2 separate regions of the Homo sapiens genome follow, and region 1 is linked to region 2. The links come from fine-mapping of genetic effects on gene expression. A gene starts in region 2. The other region holds a variant in brackets. All regions are shown on one strand. Distances are between the middles of the regions.

Region 1 (2,912 bases), 36 kb before region 2:
CATTATATATTTGGGATACATTTGTAATTACAGAAGATTAAAAATGCCCAAATGTCTGTCAGTAGGGGATTAGAGGAATAAGTTAGGATTCAGTGCTACAAATGAATGAAGAAAATCTCTATACACTAACATGTAGTGGCCTCAAAGACGTATTGTTAAGTGGAAAAAAGCAAGGTGCAGGAATATTTGCTATACATTATCTTTTTTTTTTTTTTGAGACATGGTCTCACTTTGTTGCCCAGACTGGAGTACAGTGACGCGATCTCAGATCACTGCAACCTCTGTCTCCCAGACTCAAGCGATTCCCCTGCCTCAGTCACCCGAGTCGCTGGGATTACAGGCGCGCCCCACTACCACCAGGCTAATTTTTTATTTTTAGTAGAGACGGGGTTTCACCATGTTGGCCAGGCTGGTCTTGAACTCCTGACTTCAAATGATCCACCCTCCTTGGCCTCCCAAAGTGCTGGGATTACAGGTGTGAGCCACCACGCCCAGCCTATGTTATCTTTTATGTGAGAAAAGGAAAGAAAATAAATATATAGGTATTTGCTTATACTTAAAAGTGGAAAAACAAACCAAAAACAATAAAAAGAAGGTTTCCAATAAGGGAAAGGAACAAACAGAAGGAATGAAAAAGAAAGCAAGGTTTCTAGGAAGGTTCCTTGCTGTATGGCTTTGAAACTAAGTACATATTTTACAAATTTGAGAAAAGTTAACTCAAAAAAGAAAAAACCTCCAAAAACTGAAGAAAAACTAGGATGAATATCAAGTTGGTGGCATATGAACTTTTATTAGTTTTCTGTCACTGCATAATGATTACCACAAATTTAGCAGCTTAAAACACTCTATTATGTTGTCTGGGCTGGTCTTGAACTCCTGGCCTCAAGCAATCCCCTTACCTTAGCTTCTCGAGTCACTGGGATTACAGGTGTGACCCACCACACCTGGCAAAACACTCATTTTTTTTTAATCTCACAGTTTAGAGAGAAGTCCAGGCAGGCTCAGTTGGGTTTTCTGCTCATGTGAATGCCAAAATGAAGGTGCTGGCTAATCTGAGCTCTTATATGGAGGCTTTTGCGGGGACTCTGCTTCCAAGCTTGTTCAGGCTGCCAGCAGAATTTAGTTTCTTGCCACTGTGGGATGGAAACCCCCATTTCTTTGCTGGCTGGCAGTGGGGCCACCCTCTGCTCCCAGAGGCTGCCTGCAATTCTTCCTCATGTGGTCCCCTTATCTTCAAAGTCAGCAAAGGCATGTCAAATCCTTCTCATACCCTGACCTTTCTGGCTTCCTCTTAATTCCCCTTTCAGCCAGAGAGAGCTCTTTGTTTTTAAGGATTCATGTGATACATCAGGTCTACATTCCCTGTCGTAAGGTCAACTGTATCAAACAACA[A/T]AATCCTAGGAATGATATCTCATTATATTCAAAGGTCCTGGGGATTAGGAAAGGGCATCTTTGTCAAGCTATCTTCCAATTCTGCCACAACAATATAAAGAATTTCAGGGCCAGGCACAATGGATCGTGCCTATAATCCCAGCACTTTGGGAGGCTGAGGTGGGAGGATAATTTGAGCCCAGGAGTTCAAGACCAGCTTAGCCAAAATAGCAAGACCTTGTCTCTAAAGAAAAAGAAAAATCATTTTTAAAGAAGTTTTTAAAAAACAAATTTTTGGGCCGCGTGCGGTGGCTCATGCCTGTAATCCCAGCACTTTGGGAGGCCAAGGTGGGCAGATCACCTGAAGTCAGGTGTTCGAGATCAGCCTGGCCAACATGGCGAAACCCCATCTCTACTAAAAAAAAAAATACAAAAATTAGCTAGGCATGGTGGCTCATGCCTGTAGTCCCAGTTACTTGGGAGGCTGAGGTAGGAGAATTGCTTGAACCCAGGAGATGGAGGTTGCAGTGAGCTGAGATCCTGCCACTGCACTCCAGCCTGGGCAACAGAGTGAGACTCCGGCTCAAAACAAAAATTTCAAGTGAGTTTAGAATATAATATTTTGATGGCACTTTCCTAGTGGGATATGTTCTTAGGACAAAAAGAATCTCAAAAAAAAAACAAAACTCAATCTCACTCAGTTCTCTTATGTCAGTGGTACTCTGGTATTGTTGTCTGAAACAATTAAGATACATAGAAAAAGGCCGGGCGTGGTGGCTCATGCCTGTAATCCCAGCACTTTGGGAGGCCGAGGCAGGCGGATCTTGAGGTCAGGAGATCGAGACCATCCTGGCTAACACAGTGAAACCCCGTCTCTACTAAAAATACAAAAAAAAATTAGCCGGGTGTGGTGGCGGGCACCTGTAGTCTCAGCTACTCCGGAGGCTGAGCCAGGAGAATGGCGTGAACCCAGGCAGCGGAGCTTGCAGTGAGCCGAGATCGTGCAACTGCACTCCAGCCTGGGAGAAAGAGCGAGACTCCGTCTCAAAAAAAGAAAAAAATACACACACACATAGAAAAAAGCAAATAAGTAATTACCTTTATGTTGTGGGACCTGTGATTTTTCGCAAGGAAAAAAATATAAAAGTGTATAGGTAAGTAAAAACCTACCTGCAAAGAATAATTTGCGTTTGCCAACCCTAACCACTCAAAAGGCAAGAAGAAATGAGAACACAGAAGGAGTGAGCACTCCTGTAGCAATGAACACTGCTAGCAAGCAGACGTAGTCTTAAAATACCACTTCTCATTAAGAGGAACTAAGGCTCCTTGCAGAAATGGCTTATTCCAGGTCTGAACTTTATATGCTTTTTTTTAAAAAAAAAAAACAAAACATATAAAATGAATCTGGAATATCTTTGTGTACCAGAAAAGAGATTTCAAAGACCAATGGGGTCATTTTGAAAAGATACAAGAGCTGATCTGAAGGGACAATTTGAACATCAAAAAGAATAAGAAGCCAGGCACAGTGGTTCATGCCTGTA
Region 2 (2,912 bases):
AAGCATTCCTTTCTACTGACTTCAAGTCTTTAGACAAAGCTTAACACTGTTTTTTGTTTGTTTGTTTGTTTGTTTTTGAGACAAGGTCTTACTCTGTCACCCAGGCTGGAGTGCAGTGGCACGATCTCGGCTCACTGCAACCTCTGCCTCTCAGGTTCAAGTGATTCTCCCACCTCAGCCTCCCTAGTAGCTGGGGTTACAGGCATCCACCACCGTGCTTGGCTAAGTTTTGTATTTTTAGTAGACACAGGTTTTCACAATATTGGCCAGGCTGGTCTTGAACTCCCGACCTCAGGTGGTCCACCCACCTTGGCCTCCCAAAGTGCTGGGATTACAGTCTTGAGCCACTGCACCTGGCCTGTGTTTTTATTTGTTTTTGAGACAGGGTCTCGCTCACCCAGGCATGAGTGCTGTGGCATGATCATGGCTCAATGCAGCCTCTGAGGCTCAAGAGATCCTCCCACCACAGCCTCTCAAGTGGCCTGGGACTACAGGCAGATACCATCATACACAGCTAATTAACACGGTTTGTAGAGATGAGGGCTTACTCTGGTGCCCACGCTGGTCTCAAATTCCTGGACTCAAGCAATCCTCTCACCTAGGCCTCCCAAGATGCTGGGATTATAGGCAGGAGCCACCTCGCCTGACTAAAGCTTAAATCTTTCAACAGATTGCCGATCAGAAAATCTTTGAATCCACCTATGATCTGTAAGCCTCTCCTTCAAGACATCCCACTTCCTTAGCCTGAACCAATGTATATCTTCCATATATTGACTTATTTTACCTGCAATTCCCAACTCCCTAAAATGTATAAAACAAAGAGTAATGCCACCGCTTCAGATGCTCTTTGTTAGGACCTCTTGGGACTATTCCCTGGGCCATGGTCACTCATATTGGTTCAGAATAAATCTCTTTAAAACCTTTTACAGAATTTGTTTTTTTTCCATTAACAAAATCATCTCATTTTGAGGCAACTGAAGCCTAAAATCGTTAGAGAAGCGCTTTGCCCAAGGATTCACACAATAGTGTTGCAAATGGAGATTTAGCACTAAGTCAGCTGTGTTGTTTTCACTATACTGGGTGCCTACATAGCAACTAGACCATGGAAAGTCTTCGCATATCTACGAGGATGCAATTTTTGATAGGAGTTGGTCATAGTCAAGAGTGGCTAGATGGCCACTTCTAAATCTTGTTGGTGCTGGATTTCCTAAACTCTGTGGGATTACTTCTTTTTTTGACCTCAAAACAGAAAAATTTCCTCTGTAACACGATTCACTAACACATGAGGTAATCACACTGCTTTGAGGTCTGTAAGGATCAAGTTGGAACCGTCATCCCCTTCCCTGGCAGTCCCTAAAATCCTTCGAGATGACGTCACCCAACGAGTTCAAGAGGGCGGTGCGTTCCTAACCACACCTTCTGCAACCCAAGTGCCGCCCCTCTGACTTTCTCCTTTTTCCTTTTTTCCGGAACGCCGGAACGTAAGACGTGGGTCACGCAACAAGAGCAACTAGTCCCGGAAGCAAAAAGCAAAGAGGCGGAGAAGAAGACGGGAAGCAGAGCCCGCGTCCGGGTCGGCCGGCAGGGGGCGGGGCCGGGCATGGTAACGGCTCGGAAGCCTAGGAGGCTGGGCCGGAGGGAGGCGGAGGAACCGGTGTTCGCCGCCGCCGCTGCTTCAGCTTATTCCTTGTGGCCTCTGCGGGTCCTGCCTCAGCCATGATGATCCACGGCTTCCAGAGCAGCCACCGGGATTTCTGCTTCGGGCCCTGGAAGCTGACGGCGTCCAAGACCCACATCATGAAGTCGGCGGATGTGGAGAAGTGAGGCTTCGGGGCACGGGGTCTGGGCGCTGGCCGGTTGCTGGCCCAGGGCGGGAGGCAGGGCGAACTCTGTGCAGCCCCTCCCCTTTTCCCTGAGGCGGAGGTTCGGTCCCTCCGGACCGGACCTTTGATTGACAACTTCGATAAATAATCCAGTCACACTTCCGGGCCCTTTGGTTGGGGATCGCCAGGCGCTGCTTTCGTCAACTGTCAATCCGCCTGGGTTTGAGTAGAGTGTGACTGTTCTGGTGGACTTTCCCCTCACCAAACGTCTCCTCCTGCCTCAGCCTGCACCACCTTTCTTTCTGGGTGGCTGTTGCCTGTTTTCTTAGGGGTTAATGACGGGGATGATTTATAAGTTTGGTTTCTGTCACGTCAGGTGCTGTGCCCGGCGCTTGAGATAGGAAATGTAAAAGACAACGTGCGCCTCAATTCACAGTCTCGTGAGAGAGACAGACAATTATATTACAGCGTGAATAAATGTAATGAAGATGTATACACGGAGTGATGTGAGGTCTTTTAGGGGCTCGAACCATCTGGGAAATTGGGATGCCTGAACTGAATCTTTATAAAACCGTTGCGGGGGGCGGTGGATAGGTACATGCCATCAGGTCAGGCAGAGTGAGTTGTGATGCGTTTTTGATGCCTGGGCTGAATCTTGACAAAATTTAGGGGAATCAGGGGACGCATGTAAAGCTGGGGGCTCAGGGAGAGTGAAAGCTGTGATGTGTTTAAAGAGCTGTGTCCGTGTGATTGGAGCGTGAGGTACCATAGGGGGTGTTGTGAGAGATGAGAGGTAGGCCCCAGGGGAATCAAGATACTGAGGGAATTTTTATGCCTGGCTAAGGAGTTTTCAATTTTATCTGACAACCACTGGGTGTAATTTTATCCAAAGGAGCTGCATTATCAGATGTACGCTCTGAAAGATTTCTCTGGAGGCCATGTTGAGGCTGGATTGCAGGTCCGCAGGGATGGGAAGGAGACCAGTTAGTAAGAGAAAAGATAGGTTTTAGAAGATTAAGTCCCTGGGATGGCCAGCTGATGGGAGGAGAAATAAAAAAGGAAGAGTCTATGCTGATGACAAGATCTCTG

The links.
Region 1: its variant is fine-mapped to the expression of TIPRL in whole blood (TOPMed, PIP 0.91).

Annotation. Positions count from the first base shown.
Region 1 is chr1:168,140,865-168,143,776 of GRCh38, forward strand. No RefSeq gene overlaps it. Among named protein-coding and RNA genes, the nearest start is that of GPR161, 5.4 kb to the left of the region's middle. The variant A/T (reference allele first, on the strand shown) is at 1,393.
Region 2 is chr1:168,177,362-168,180,273 of GRCh38, forward strand. It overlaps TIPRL (TOR signaling pathway regulator), which reads left to right and starts at 1,601. Exons shown (of 7, transcript NM_152902.5): 1 at 1,601-1,820. The coding sequence starts at 1,717. RefSeq lists enhancers at 1,224-1,725, 1,713-1,832.